Linked DNA regions of Homo sapiens: region 1 is linked to region 2. The links come from fine-mapping of genetic effects on gene expression. Tissue or cell type: monocytes. Region 2 holds a variant in brackets; the other region holds the start of a gene. All regions are shown on one strand. Distances are between the middles of the regions.

What was found. PIP is the estimated chance that this variant, and not a neighbour inherited with it, causes the effect.
Region 1: BMAL1 starts here. The variant in region 2 is fine-mapped to the expression of BMAL1 in monocytes (Fairfax 2014, PIP 0.94).

Annotation. Positions count from the first base shown.
Region 1 is chr11:13,273,971-13,282,076 of GRCh38, forward strand. BMAL1 (basic helix-loop-helix ARNT like 1) reads left to right here and starts at 3,820. Exons shown (of 20, transcript NM_001297719.2): 1 at 3,820-3,953. RefSeq lists silencers at 3,421-4,070, 4,141-4,210, 4,491-4,830.
Region 2 is chr11:13,197,238-13,205,343 of GRCh38, forward strand. No RefSeq gene overlaps it. Among named protein-coding and RNA genes, the nearest start is that of BMAL1, 76 kb to the right of the region's middle. The variant AAAAT/A (reference allele first, on the strand shown) is at 3,475.

The DNA.
Region 1 (8,106 bases), 77 kb after region 2:
AACGGAAAAGCCCCTTTCACATCTGAGCACCAAGATCTTTGGAATCTTGGCCATGTCTGCAAGCAAGATCTAGTCTAAAGCCTAATTACACAGTCTAGGACACATTCCAAATGAGGTATTACTGCTCTCCCATTCTGAGCTGCTATGGCCATCCCATTAAAAAAAGAGCCAAGGAAGGTCTTTTCAAAAGCAGCTGAAAAAGCTATAAACACTGGTTAACTCATTAATGCCTGATTTTTTTTTTAATTCCCATTTTTTGTACACCCAGATGTCAACCTTGGTTAACAGATCAAACCATTCACAAATGTCAAATCCCAAAGAAACGCAATCAGAATCTTCCAGAACAGGACTCTGAAGTCTGTATTTTTTAAAACTCCCCAGGTAATTCTAATGGATCCAATCATTGGATCAGAGTCAGGGAAACTACTGTAGATTATACTACTTTATCCTCACTAACTTCATCTGTAAAACAGGAGCAAGAAATATCTATTTCATAGAATTGTTAAGAGTGATACCTAATATGTATCACATCTTGACTGTATGCCAGGCACTGTGTTAAGGGCTTTCCATCTATCATCACATTGAACTCTTATAACAGCCCTATGAAGTAGACACTAGATTATCCCCCTTTTACAGATGAGGAAACTGAGGTACAAAGAGGTTAAGCAATTTGATAAAAGTCATCCAGCTAGCAAGTGTGGAGGGCAAGCATATCAACTGCTAGGGTTAACGTGAGGATTATATTAAATAATGTATTTAAAGCATCTGGTACACAGTAGGTGCAAATAAATGCTCTCTCTTATCTTCCTTTTATCCACATGATTCTACTCATGCCCAGTAAAATTTACATTGAGGACAATATTTTGACCTTAGCAGTGCCCTATGAATTGAAAGTTCAGTATCCTGGAAAGTAGAAAAGAAAAGGGAAGTTAGGTAGTAGTGGAAGGAGGTGTTTGGGATCTCCAACAGAGAGAACCACAAAGAAAGGTGTAATTACACAGGGAAAAACAGGTGCACATGAGGGAAGACAGTTGCTTGGCCACTGAGGGTAGGATAAGGCAGGGTGATAACCTTTAAAAGAGGAAAGCCAGGGTACAAGATGAGAATCTCAGAGGAAGGGAGTCCACAAAGACACCTATTTCAGCCCGCCTCCCACTGCATGGTAATCCAATTCTCACTTGGACATTTTTTGTGACAAGAAACTCAATTAATCAAGGCAGAGGATGCTCTAGCTGTTAGAAAATTGTTCATATTGATTCATTCTAGAGTTTCTACCCACAGGTTCTCCTTCAACCCCTTAAGGCCCTTAAGTATAAGTTTAATTTCTCTTCTATTTGACAGTTCTTCACATATATCAAGACAGTTACCTTGTACCCCTGGGGCAAAACCTTCTGCTTCCTTTAATATTTCCTCATATGACATAGTTTCTAGCCTCTTTACATCCTGGTCCCTCTACTTGTGCATGTAGATAATTTCTTTCTGCCAAGTCTTAATTGCAGACAATACTTCATGTGGGTACTGACCAACACTGGGCAGCACAATAACACCTATCTTGCTTTACATGTCAGACTTCCACTGATGCAGCCTAAGAGCGTTTATTTATTTTGGCAGCCACAATTCACTGTGGACTCAGATTATTTGTCACCTAAGACCCTTTATCTTGCTCCTGTAAGCATCTAAGACACCTCTGCCTCCGGCTGGCTTCACACAGGGTGGGACTCCACATTTACCCCTGTTAGAGTCAGCCCACTGCTCCAATATTGTATGTGGTTTGTGTAACAGCGTCTCTTCCCCTCCTGGCTTTGTGTCATCTGGACATGTGATGCGAATCTTCTGGATTTTCCTTCAGAACACTGATAAAAGTTCTGATGTCTGGACCTGGGAGAGAGGCTTCTGTCATTCTGAGGGTAACTGGTGTGGTATAGAGGCTTTGAAATAAAAAGAAAAAGTCTAGTTTGAATCACGGCTCTGCCACCTACTGTGTGACCTTTGGCCAGCTAGCTAAATTCTGAGTTTCAGTTTCCCCATCTGTAAAATGGGGCAATAAAAGCTTCCTCACAGTGTGGTTATAAAGATTAAGGGAGAACATGAGGGGAAAGTACTTAGCACAGTGTCTGGTACGTAGTAGGTGCTGCTGGAATGCTGACTCCCTGCAATCTTCTTTTCGGTCAACGTCGACTCATCAATCAGCATCTTTAGGTTATGGTTACTTAACCAGTTATTAGTCCAATTAATGATACTAGCATCCAGCCCATATTTCTTCATCTTGTCTATGATATCTTGTCAAGTGCTTCGCTTAAGTCCCACTTACCTAGAGTGATCTCCTCATGAAATGGGGGCAGAGACAAAGGAGCAATAAGATTCCACCTGCGTGTAAACTTCGGAAAAATAGCAAGCTACCGACGGAATTGCTTGACCTCGAAAACAGTCAGCATTCAGACCACAAGCACATATTGGGCACTCCGTGCCTGTCAATGAGCTGGGGATGGGCAATGGTGTTACAGAGATTAAAAAACGCAGTGTCTGTGTTCAAGGAACTTACCAGGCTAGAAGTCTAGAGTCACGGGGGCCAGTCTGGGTAACAGAATTAGGCCAATTTATTTAATTCCATTTGTTCATGTATCCAGCCAACAGATATTTATGGTGCACTTGTTGGGTGCCAGCCCCGCCCCCACCACTCCACCCTACCCCAGCAGGCGCTAAAGGAGAGCTGACATGATGGATAACGAAAAAGAAGACGCTGTCCTTCTATTCAGGGAGTTTAACATCTGGAAGAGCCGGGAGTTCTTTGTGCTAAAGGCCCTCTACAAAGTGCCTGAGATGCAAAAATAAGTCACTTTCTCTGTCCTCTCAGCAACCGAGTCGCATGTCGTTATCAAATTTTTATTTTCTGTAACTGTTTCCTTCCGTCTTGCTCCGTAGACAGCTTTTTGCAGCAGAGAGCGCTGCCGCGGGGCTGGTGTCTACTCTTCAGTAAGTGGTCAAAACCTGGCTACTGGAAGGAAATGCAATGGAATCGCTCCGCGCTCGAGTATTCTCTTTGGAACTACGGGAATGACAGCTCCAGTGGGACACTTGGAGGTCATGATGAACGCAAAGAACGTGAGAACACTTGCAGTCCTCGGGGTGGAAATGCCTTCTAGAAATACTAAGTATCCGTTCTCTCGTTGAGACTTTGGCAAACCAGGGATTTTAGGAAGGGTCTGGCACTCAACGTTCCTAAAATTGGTTTCCTAGATGGAGCCGGAGGGAGAGAGGGAGTCAGGAACTGCTGCTTTTCGTCGGAATGCCCGGAGGGGAGAAGAAGAAGGAGGAGGGGTGAGGGCGGGCGGCCAAACGCCAGCCGGCAGGGGACCCAGAGAAGAGGGACATCCCGGGCGACCCCGAGGAGCGCGGCTTGGGCACCGCAGTGGCCGCGGCTAGTGGGAGACCTGAGGGGAAAGGGAGAGGGCAGGGGCGAGGAACCCAGGGAGCGCGCGCGGATTGGTCCTCTCCTCGGGGCGTGCGCTCCTGTGCGCCAAATGATTGGTGGCAGGAAAGTAGCAGGTAAACCGGCTCCCGCCGCCTCGCCATTGGTCAGCGGCCTCTCTAGCCGCCACACAACTGGCCAGCGGGCTGCCGAGCCGCGCGCGGATTGGCTGGGGGCGGCCGCCGGGACCGGCTCCCTTCGGGCGTTCGGATTGGCTGGCGGGAAGAGGCAGGTATCCGGGCGCTGCGGCTCCTCCATTGGTGGGCGGGGAAGGGGGGTTGGGCACAGCGATTGGTGGGCGGGGGGCCGGGCCTGGGCCGGCGGGGAGCGGATTGGTCGGAAAGTAGGTTAGTGGTGCGACATTTAGGGAAGGCAGAAAGTAGGTCAGGGACGGAGGTGCCTGTTTACCCGCGCCGGACTCACCGCCGCCGCCGCCGCGGGATCCGAGTGCGGGCGCGGGCGCGGGCGCTCCCGGCGAGCCACGGTGAGTGTCAGGCCGGCGGCGGCCAGCGACGCGATCCCGCGCACCCCGTCGGGGGCCGTTAGCACCCTCGCGGGCGCTGCGCCCCTGCCGCCGCCCCGGGGGCAACCCGGCCGCCGAAGAACCCTGCCCGACGTGCCCGCTGCCGGCCTTAAAGGGCCCGTGACCGCTCCCTGCCCCCACCCGGGCCGTGGGGAGGCTGCGCCCCTTAAAGGCGCCGCGCCCGTCCGCCCCCATCCTCCTCGCGGGGGCTGCCGCTGCGGGCTAGGGCAGGCAGAGGTGCTGCAGGAGCCCTTAAAGGGGCCGGGAAAGTGTTCGCTGGAGTACCCACCGCCCTTCCGCGGGCATCGCTACCTGGCGGGGGGAGGGGGCAGCTAGCTGCCTCTTAAAGGGATAGCTCTGCCCTTGGGGGCAGTGACTCGGCCGAAGAGGACTCCTAGATGTGTCCCCGGGAGCTTCGGGGATCCCCGAGGGGACCATGCCTGGTGGCTGCCCCTCAAGGGCGTTGGGCGAACGGTGCCGCGTCTGCCCTTCCTCCCCGCTTCACTTCCCTTTCGGGAGCCCGCGAGGCTGGGTGGGGGCGGGGAGGGCGTCTCCGTCGGGCTTGGGGAGTCCAAGTCCGCCCGCCCCTTCGGCCCTGTAGCCAGGGCTGGCGCTGCACCCGGGAATCCCCGGCCGGCACGGGGCCGACCCCAGCCTGCGAACTTTCGTGGGGCCTGTGCCGTCCAGGTCCTGGGCGGCCCTCAAGGATGCCCCGTGGGTCTGCGGGCAGGTGCGCGTCGGCCTGGGGATGTCGCCCGGAGCCCGGGTGCGGGCCGGCCTTGGAGTCCCAGAGCTCCGCGGAGGGCGCAGCGAGCCTGGCTCCAGCTCCGGGTTTGACAGATGTCAGGGAAGAAAAGGTTCCCGCTCGGCTATTGCCGGGCGTTGACATCCCAGAGAGCTTCCCGTTTGCTTGGAAGAAGACGAGGAAGGTAGAGGTGAACGTCGACCTTGTGGGGCGCATGTTAGCCTCCCCGAGGGGTCGCGAGAGCCGGCAGCGGGGTGAGCTCAGGTGCCCGCCGGCAGGAGCTGGGGAGGGAAGGGGAGTGCTGGACACCGGCGCCTGCTGTCAAGTTCTCGCCGGCCGGTGAGAGACCCGCTGCCGCCGCGCACCCCGCACCTCCTGACCCCTCTCCCCTCTCCGCCTCGGCCCCTTCCCGGTCACCTAGCGTTGTTTTGGCGCTTTGGCGCTTGCGGTCTCTTCCTTCTTCCACCGCTACTCCTCAGCGAGGAATTATTAGCCAAGTTTTCTCACCCAGCTTCCAAAAATCAGATTCCGTATTTGTGAACAAGCTTTTCTTGACACTACCCGTATACCCGTATTTCCAGCATCGTCGTTTTATTAAACATCCATAAAAGCTGCCCCTTAGATGCATTCATTTCCCACGACACCTGCTTGCTTGTCATTTGTCCTTCTGACATCTGCTGTTGTTCACCCCTTTAATCTATTATTAAATGACAACTATTATTTTAATTCTTCTGGTCTCATTGATATCCGGATCTGTGAATTTGGGTTGGTGGAGTTTTTAATTAATGTACCCGTTGAATCATGAGCTTAAAATAATCATTGCTGCTCCTGAGCAGTTTTGAATAATATCATGCTCTCTCTGCTTGCAAGACTTAAAAAAATTCGCTGGTGTTATATTTGATTTCCATATCAATGGAATTCCCAAATATTTTTGAAAATACAAAATTCAGTCTTTCAGTCCATGTTTTGTTACTCAGATCATTTTACTGATAAGTCTTTAACGCAGCTTATAGAACATATTTAGAAGGTTTGGAAATTTCCTGGACAGGATTTGAAATTGCCTGTATCATCTGAAGCTGGTTCTGTAGAAGCATTTTGGTTTTGATTGTAGATGCAGCCAGTGAATGATAACAATAAGTTAAAACTGTAGTTAAATTTGTTCTTTATTCAACCCTCTGAAGAACGAACAGATCTGGTAGAAAAGCACTAACCTGGGAGTTAGGAGCTGGACATCCTGGTTCTAGTTTAGGCTTGGGCTCTCATGGCCGTTCCAGTCGGGGCAAGTTATTAAAGATTTCTAGGTTGTGTTTGCCTCTGATGGAAAGTAAGACGGTTGAACTAGGTGATCTCAAAGGTTCCTCTCTTTTGAAGTTCTGTAAGTCTCTAAATATTTAATACATTTGAATTCAGGTTGGTATTTACCTCCTGGCACCTCCAGAATATCTGAGCTGAAGCCCTATTTTCATAAGAAAGTTAAGCAGATCAACAGATGGTGTTTTGAAGAATCCATTTCAAATGATTTATAAAATGATGACTACTTACGAGTTTGTCTGCTATTTGCAGAAGAGGTTTGCATGCCACAGGGCAGGAAAAGGAAGTGGCCATGTTTTCAGATTTATCCCTTCACACCAACAATCTCTGTGGAATTTATATGCTAAAAGATGGAGAAGCACCATAGAAAGATTTGGCTGTATTAACAAAACTGCATATGAAAAGGTAAAAACTAGATAGTTAATATCTCTCTTTGGTGTAAGGGTTATAATGTATCTGAGCTTTCTTTGTGATTTCATCATCAACTCTCACTGTGGTAGGAAAATCAATATTAAATAAACAGTTTCAGCCCCGTGATTACATGCAGTGATTTTAGGAAGCATCATGATAACTAAAGTAGGTACTTGCAGGGAAGTAAAATATCCTTTCTAGACCTTGAGGTTTCGTTGGGAGCTAGGGACACAGGCATGTTATCCTTCTCCACAGTCTTTTTTCATTGTCACCTTATCACAAGACTCAGATTTATCCCAAATACCCACCTTGTCTTTTCTTCTCCCTCTCATGAAATAAGACCTGCTCTGACTCAACCCCCTCAGCATCTCTTACTTCCCACCCAAAATGTCCTGTCTCTATCCCCATCGTCCCCTCATCTCCTCCCAATTCAGAGAAAGCAAGTGGACCTCTCCTCTGTTCCTTTTCTTGGCCTCTCACCATGGGCAAGTGCCTGGGCTCTGGTGGCAGAAGAATCCATGGCTCAGGTTTGGGCTTTGTGGTCTTGGATGTGTGCTTGACTCCTCTGACCTCAGGTTTCTCCTCTTGGTGTAATGGCAGTGCCTGCCTCGTGGAGTCTGTGTGAGGATTAAGGGAGATGGTGCATGTAAAAGGCCTGGCACACAGGAAGCCTTTCCTTTGTGCCAGCTGCCATTCCTTCTCACCTCTACCCGGGTCCTATCACTAGAATATTATTTGTGCTGTTTGTCCTTAGTCTCCCCTGCCCCACCCTGAAAACCTTAGGCTTGACTTAGGAGAGGAAGGATGGAAGAGGCAGAGTCAGACTTGTGGTGAGCCTGCTGTGTACCAGGCAATTTACATGTGTCTTTACTTGGTACCCTGGGTTCGTAAGCCTCTCTTTCCTCCCTCCTGCCAGCCTCCCCCACTCTCCCATCTCCTGCTCCATTCTTAGTACCTGCCCTCTGGCTTCTCTCGCTACCACCTTTCTTTATATTTCTTCTCAAAGTTTTCTCCAAAACTTTGTCGTGAGTTCCTGGGGCCCATCTGCCCATCCTTATTCCTGAGTGGTTGTTCTTGGCCCCTTTGCAGTATTTCTTTTATTTTTTTAAACATGGTCTCAGTCTTGCCTGGTTGGAGTGCAGTGGTGCAATCGTGGCTCACTGCAGCCTCCCAAGTCTCAGGTAATCCTCCTGCCTCAGCCTCCAGAGTAGCTGAGCCTACAGACACGTGCCATCACACCTGGCTCATTTTTGTATTTTTATTAGAGATGGAGTTTTGCCATGTTGCCCAGGCTGGTCTCAAACTCCTGGGCTCAAGTGACCCACCTGCACTGGCCTCCCAAAGTGCTGGGATTACAGGCGTGAGTCACTGTGCTCAGCCCCTTTGAAGCTTTTACCTCACTTGTTTTTTGTCCTTTGAAATCCTTTCCTCTCTCAGCCTTTGGGTCATGCTGGTTTCTTGATTCTCTTCCTGCACCCCTGTAAAGATAAATGTCTGTCCTAGCTTCTGCTATTCACACTGTCCGTGGCCTGGGGTCCCCTCTCTAGCCCTGACCTGTCTCTCCTGTGTTCTGCTAGCAGGTCCGTTGTGGACATGAATGGCAGCCTGTAATCTGCATTTGTGGTCTCGGAGTTACAGGTTTGCAGA
Region 2 (8,106 bases):
CTAGCTCTCCAGCAAGAGTTCCTAACCAAAAGGGAAACTAAGAAATGACAAAGAATTCAAAACATGGATTGCAAGGAAGCTTAATGAGTTCCAAGACAAGGTTGAAAATCAGCAAAAAGAAACTTCTAAATCAATCCATGAAATGAAAGCGGAGATAGAAGTCTTAAAAAGAAATCAATCAGAGCTACTGGAATTGAAAAACTCACTTAAGGAATTTCAAAATACAATTGAAAGCTTTATCAATAGACTGGACCAAGCAGAAGAAAGAATTTCAGAGCTTGAAATTCTTCTAATTCTAATCCCATATTTCTTGAAGACTTTTGCTCATTTTCTAAATTCTTTTTTCTTTATTTTTGTTTAACTGGGATAGTTTTCAGCATTCTTAAAGAAAAGAAATTTCAACCAAGAATTTTATATCCTGCCAAACTAAGCTTCATAAGCAAAGGAAAAATAAAATATTTTCCAGACAAGCATGCACTAAGGAAATTTGTTACCACTAGACCAACCTTACAAAAAGTCCTTAAGGGAGTTCTAATCATGGAAGTGAAAGAAGGATACCTGCTATCAAAAAAACACAGTTAAGTACATAGCCCACAGACCCTATAAAGTAACCACATAATATAAACTACAAAGTAACCACTTAACAACTTGATGATAGGATCAAAACCTTGCATATCAATATTAATCTTGAATGTAGATGCTCTGAACACCCCCACTTAAAAGGCACAGAGTGGCAAGTTGAATTTAGAAAAGAAGATCCATCTGTCTGCTGTACTGAGGAGACTCATTTCACATGTAAAGACACACATAGGCTCAAAGTAAAGGGTAGGAGAAAGATTTGTCACACAAATGAAAAACCAAAAAGATCAGGGGTTTCTGTTCTTATATCAGATAAAACAGACTTTAAACTAACAACAGTAAGAAAGGACTAAGAAGGGCATTACATCATGATAAAGGGTTTAATTCGACAAGACTTTACTAAATATATATGCACCCAACATTGGAGCACCCAGATTCATAAAACAAGTACTTGTGGGCCTATGAAAAGACTTAGTTGCATAATAATAGTGGTAGACATCAACACCCCACTGACAGTGTTAGATCATCGAGGCAGAAAACTAACAAATAAAATCTGGACTTAAATTCGACACTCAACCAATCGGACCTGATAGACATCTATAGCATATTCCACCCACCAACCACAGAATATACATTTTTTGCATCTGCACATGGAACATACTCCAAGATTGACCACACACTTGGCCATAAAGCAAATCTCAATAAATTAAAACAAATCAAAATTATACCAATCATACTCTCAGACCACAATGGAATAAAAATAGAAGTCAACAGCAAGAAGATCTCTTCAAGACCACAAAATTACCTGGAAATTAAACAACTTGTTGCTGAATGTCTTTTGGGTAAACAATAAAATTAAGGCAGAAATGAAAACATTCTTTGAAATAAATGAAAACAAAGACACAACATACCAAAATCTCTGGTATGTGGCAAAAGCAGTGTTAAGTGGAAAGTTTATAGTGCTAAACACCTACCTTAAAAGAGAAAGGTCTCAAATTAACAATCTAACATCACATTTAGAAGTATTAGAAAAAACAAGAACAAACTAACCCCAAAGCTATCAGAGAAAAAGAAATATCTAAAATCAGAGCAGGACTGAATGAAATTGAGACCTCCAGGACCACACAAAGAATCAACAAAACCAAAAGTTGATTCTTTGAAAGGATAAACAGCATTAATAGATTGTTAGCTAGAATAATAAAAAACAAAAGAGAAGATCCAAATAAGCACAATCAGAAATGATAAAGGTGACACTACAACCAATCTCACAGAAATGCAAAAGATCCTCAGAGACTATTATGAACACCTCTAAGCATACTAAAATATCTAGAGGAAATGGATACATTCCTGGCAAAACACAATCTCCCAAGACTGAATCAGCTATAAATCGAAACCCTGAACAGACCAATATCGAGTTCTGAAATTGAATCTGTAATTAAAAAAAAAAAATCTACCAAGTAGAAACAGCCCCAGGCTAGATGGATGTACAGCTGAATTCTACCAGACACACAAAGAAGAGCTGGTACCAATGCTAAAACTATTCCAAAAAATCCAGGATGAGGGACTCTTTTCTAACTGATTCTATGAAGCCAGCATCACCCTGATACCAAAAACTGGCCAAAAAAAAAATACAGTGAAAAAAAGGAAAAACTATAGGTCAATATCTCCAATGAATATGGATGCAAAAATCTTCAGGAAAATCCTCAACCAAACTCAGCAGCACATCAAAAAGTTAATTCACCCTGCTTAAGTAGGCTTTATTCCTGGGATGCAAGGTTGGTTCAACATATGCAAATCAATAAATGCGATTCACCACATAAACAGAATTAAAAACATAAAACATATGATCATCTTAATAGATGTGGGAAAAGCTTTTGATATAATCCAACATCCCTTCACAATAAAAACACTCAACAAACTAGGCATCAAAGGAACATACCTCAAAATAATAAGAGCCATTTATGATAAACCCACAGCCAGAATCATACTGATGGGCAAATGAAAGCATATTTGGAAACTGGAAAAAGACAGGAAGCCCATTCTCACCACTCCTATTCAACATAGTACTGAAGGTCCTAGCCAGAGCAATTAGGCAGATGCATTAGTCCATTCTGACATTGCTATAAAGAAATACCTGAGACTAGGTAATAAATAAAGAACAGAGGTTTAATTGGCTCATGGTTCCACAGGCTATATAGGAAGCATGGTATCATTTGCTTCCGGGGAGGCCTCAGAGAGCTTCTACTCAAAGTAGAAGGCAAAATGGGAGTAAGTATCTTACATGGCAGGAGCAGGAGACCTCCAGACCCACACAAAGAATCAACAAAACCAAAAGTTGATTCGTTGAAAGGATAAACAACATTAATAGATTGTTAGCTAGAATAATAATCCTCAATGTTGGAGGTGGGCTTGGTGGGAGGGGATTGGATCATGGGGGTGGATCCTTCATGAATGGTTTAGCACTATCCCTTTGGTGCTGTTCTTGTGATAGAGTTCTCACAAGATCTGGTTGTTTAAAAGTGTCTCCCCTCCCACCAAGCCCACCTCCAACACTGAGGATTACAATTGCACATGAGATTTGGTGGGGACACAGATCCAAACCAAATCAGCAGGAGAAAGATATAGGCGGGGCATGGTGGCTCACACCTATAATCCCAGCATTTTGGGAGGCCAAGGTGGGTGGATCACCTGAGGTCAGGAGTTCGAGACCAGCCTGGCCAACATGGTGAAACCCCACTCTACTAAAAATTAGCCAGGCATGGTGGCATGTGCCTGTAGTTCCAGCTACTTGGGAGGCTGAGGCAGGAGAATCGCTTGAACCCCAGAGGCAAAGGTTGCAATGAGCTGAGATTGCGCCTGCACTCCAGCCTGGGCAACAGAGCAATACTCTGTCTC[AAAAT/A]AAATAAATAAATAAATAAATAAATAAATAAATAAATAAATAAATGGTATACAAATAGGAAAAGAAGAAGTCAAACTATCTCTCTTCACTGACGATATGATTCCATACCTAGAAAGCCCTAAATCTCCACCAAAAGCCTCCTGGAATGGATAAATGACTTCAGTAAAGTTCCAGGATACAAAATTAATGTACAAAAATAGGTAACATTTCTATACACCAATAATGCTCATGCTGAGAGCCAAATAAATGATAAAATTCCACTTACAGTGGCCACAAAAAAGCAATAAAATACTTAAGATTACATCTAACAAGGGAGGTGAATGATCTCTACAAGGAGAACTACAAAACACTACGGAAATAAATCATAAATGACACAAACAGAAAAACATTCTATGCTCATGGATTAGAAGACTCAGTATGATTAAAATGACCATACTGCCCAAAGCAATCTACAGATTCAGTGCTATTCTTGTAAACTACTAACATCATTTTTCACAAGACTATAATAGAAAAAACTATTCTAAAATTCATATGGAACCAAAAAAGGGCCCAAATAACAAAAGCACCTAAGCAAAAAGAACAAAGCCAAAGGCATGACATTACCTGACTATACTATAAGGCTATAGTATACTATAGCCTTCAAACTATACTATAAGGCTACAGTAAACAAAACAGCATGGTACTGGTACAAAAACAGATGCGTAGGCCAATGGAACAGAATAGAGAAGCAGAAATAAAGCTGCACACCTACAGCCATCTGACATTTGACGAAGTCAACAAAAATAAGCTATAGGGAAAGGATTCCCTATTCAACAAAAGGTGCTGGGATAACCTGCTAGCCATATGCAGAAGAATGAAACTGGATTCTTACCTTTCACCATATAAAAAATTAACTCAGGATGAATTAGATTTAAATGTAAGACCTCAAAATACAGGAATTCTAGAAGAAAACCCAGGAAACACCTTTCTGGACATTGGCCTTGAAAAAGAATTTATGACTAAGCCCTCAATAGCAATTGTAACAAAAACAAAAATTGACAAGTGAGACCTAATTAAACTAAAGAGCTTTTGCACAGCAAAAGAACTATCAATAGAATAAAGAGACAACATACAGAAGAAAATATTCACATAATGTGCATCTGACGAAGGTCTAATACCCAGAATCTATAAGCAACTTAACCGAAAAAGCAAACATTTTTAAAATGGGCAAAAGATATAAACAGACACTTTTCAAAAGAAGATATGCAAATGGCCAACAAACACATGGAAAAATGTTTAACATTACTAATCATCAAAAAAATGCAAATCAAAACTACAATGAGAAACTATCTCAAACCCGTCAGAATGACTATTATTAAAAAGTCAAAAACAACAGATGATGGCAAGGCTACAGAGAAAAGAGAACACTTATACACTGTTGGCGGGAATGTAAATTAGTTCAGCCACTGTGGAAAGAAGTCTGGAGATTTCTCAAAGAACTTCAAATAGAACTAACATTTCACCCAGCAATCCCACTACTGGGTATATACCCAAAGGAAAATAAATCGTTCTACCAAAAAGACACCTGCACTTGTATGTTCATCATAGCACTATTAACAATAGCAAAGACATGGAATCAACCTACATTCCCATCAATGGTGGACTGGATAAAAAAAATGTGGTACATATATACCATGGAATACTATGCAGCCATTAAAAAATAATAAAATCATATCTTTTGCAGCAATATGGATGCAGCTGGAGGTCATTATTCTAAGCAAATTAATGCAGAAACAGAAAACCAAATACTGCATGTTCTCATTGATAAGTGGGAACTAAATATTGGATACTCATGCCCTTAAAGATGGCAACAATAGACACTGGGGATGACTGGGGGAGGCGGGAGGGAAGGGGCAAAGGTTGAAAAACTATTGAGTACTATGCTCAGTACCTGGGTGATGGATCAATTGTACCCCCAAACCTCAGCATTATACAATATACCCAGGTATCAAACCTGCACATGTGCCCCCAAATCTAAAATAAAAGTTGAAATTATTTTTAAAACGATTAGAAGAAAAATTATGTAAAATTTATAAGTAAATAAATAAATTGGTGCTTCAAATGATAATATCAAGAAAATGAAATTATAACTCACAAAATGGGAGAAAATATTTGCAAATCATATATCTGATAAGTGATTAATATCTAAAATAAGTTTTAAAAAACCACATCACTCAATTTTAAAAATGGGCAAAGGATTTTAACAGACATTTCTCCAAAGAAGATATGCAAATGACCAATAAGCACATGAAAACATGCTCAACATCATTAACCATCAAAGAAATGCAAATAAAAACCAGTATGAGACATTACTTTACACCTATGATGATGGCTAAAAGCAATCCATACAATTATTATTCGTCAATTAAATTTTTTTTAAAAAAAGACCACAATAATGAGTGTTAACAAGGGTGTGAAGGAATTGGAACCTTCATACGCCACTGATGATATCATAAAATGATGAAGCCACTTTGGAAAACAGTCTGGCAATTACTGAAAATGTTGAATACAGAGTTACCGTATGACCCAGCAATTTTACTGCTAGGGGTATATCTCCAAGAAAAATGAAAACAGGCCAAGTGTAGTGGCTCATGCTTGTGCTCCCAGCACTTTGTGAGTGCAAGGCAGGAGGATCACTTGAGGCCAGGAGTTTGAGACCAGCCTAGGCAACATAGTGAGACCCTGTCTCTACAAAAAAAAAAAAAAAAAAAAAAAAAAAATTAGCCAAGTGTGGTGGTGTACATCTGCAGTCCCAGCTGCTTAGGAGGCTGAGGCAAGAGGATTGCTTGAGCCCAGGTATTAGAGCCTTCAGTGAGCTGTGATCACACCACTCTACTCCAGCCTGGGCAATAGAGTGAGACCCTGTGTCTAACAAAAAACAAGAGTGAGAAATGAAAACATATTCACAGAAACATTTGCACATAAATCTTTATAGCAGCATTATTCATAACAGCCAAAGCTTGGAAACTACTCAGATGTCCATCAAATGATGAATGGATAAATAAAATGTAGTATATCTGGCCGTATAATGGACTACATTTCAGTGATAAAAAGGATTGAAGTACTTACTGACACATGCTACAACATGAATGAACCTTGAAAATGTTATGCTAAGTGAAAGAAGCCAGTCAGAAAAGACCTAATAATGGATAATTCTATTTACATGGAATGTCCAGAATAGGCAAATTTATAAAAACAGAAAGTAGTTTAGTAGTTGCCTAGGGCTGGGAGGGCCTGGTGGGTGGAAATGAAGAGTGACTGCTAATGAATACAGGGTATCTATACTATTTGGGGTGATTAAAAAAAGTTCCAAAATTGATTGTGGTGATGGTTGCACAACTCTGTGAATATTCTAAAAGTCATTGAATTTTAGACTTTAAACAAATGAATTATGTAATGGTGAATTAAATCTCAATGAAGTTGTTACAAAAAAAAGAATGTCTGGAAGTAGATAGTAGATAGTGAGTGTAACTAATGGCATTGGATTATATCCTCAAAATGATTAAAATAGAAAATGTTATGTTATATATATTTTATCACAGTAAAATTAATTTTAAAGAACGTTTATAACAGCAGTGTGAAAAATAGCCAAACACTGGAAACAACACAAACGTCCATCAACGATGGACAAATAAACTGAGGAATACCCATACTACACATTCTTGCTGTGTTCATGCTATACAGCAATGAAAGTGACCAAATTCCTGCTACCTGTATCAACATGGTTGAATCTCACAACAATAACGTGAAAAAAGAGAAATCCAACAAAAAGAACAATACATTACATGTGATTCGAAAACAGGCAGAACTATCAATGGTGTTAGAAATCAGAGTCATGGTTGCCTTGAAGGAGTAGGGCAGCACCTGGGAGGGGACACCTGGGTACTAGTGATATTTACCTTCTTACCCAAAGGATGATTACACAGGCACGCTTAGTGAGTGAAAATCCATCAGACTATGCATGTACGATTTGTACAATTTCCAGATTTGTTTTCAAAATTTATTTTTTTTAAGTCTCAAAAATCAAAGTCCCCCCAGTAACTTTAATGCATAGCCAGGTTCAAAACATTACCTTCTTTACTGTGTCACCAGTACCTTCTCAAGGACCCAGTAGAAGACAACTCCAATTCCAAAATTATTATTTTCTTTTCACTCTCTCATACACAGCAATTCATTGTCTCCCTCTCTGCTCAGGAAAACCTTCACTTTTTATAGGCAAACAAATCCATTAAGGTGTGTCTTCAACAAAAGGACTTTTTTTGGGGTGGGGGGGACAGAGTCTGGCTCTGTCACCCAGGCTGGAGTGTCAGGGCATAATCTCGGCTCACTGAAATCTCCTCCTCCCGGGCTCAAGTGATCCTCCCACCTCAGCCTCCTGAGTATCTGGCACTACAAGTGCACGCCACCACGCCCAGCTAATTTTTGTATTTTTTGTAGAGACAAGGTTTCACCATTTTGCCCAGGCTGGTCTTGAACTCCTGAGCTCAAGCAGTCGGCTCACTTCAGCCTCCCAAAGTGCTGGGATTACAGGCATGAGACACCGCACCTAGCCAATTTTTCCCCCTTAGTGAATTTCTGTCACCATACTA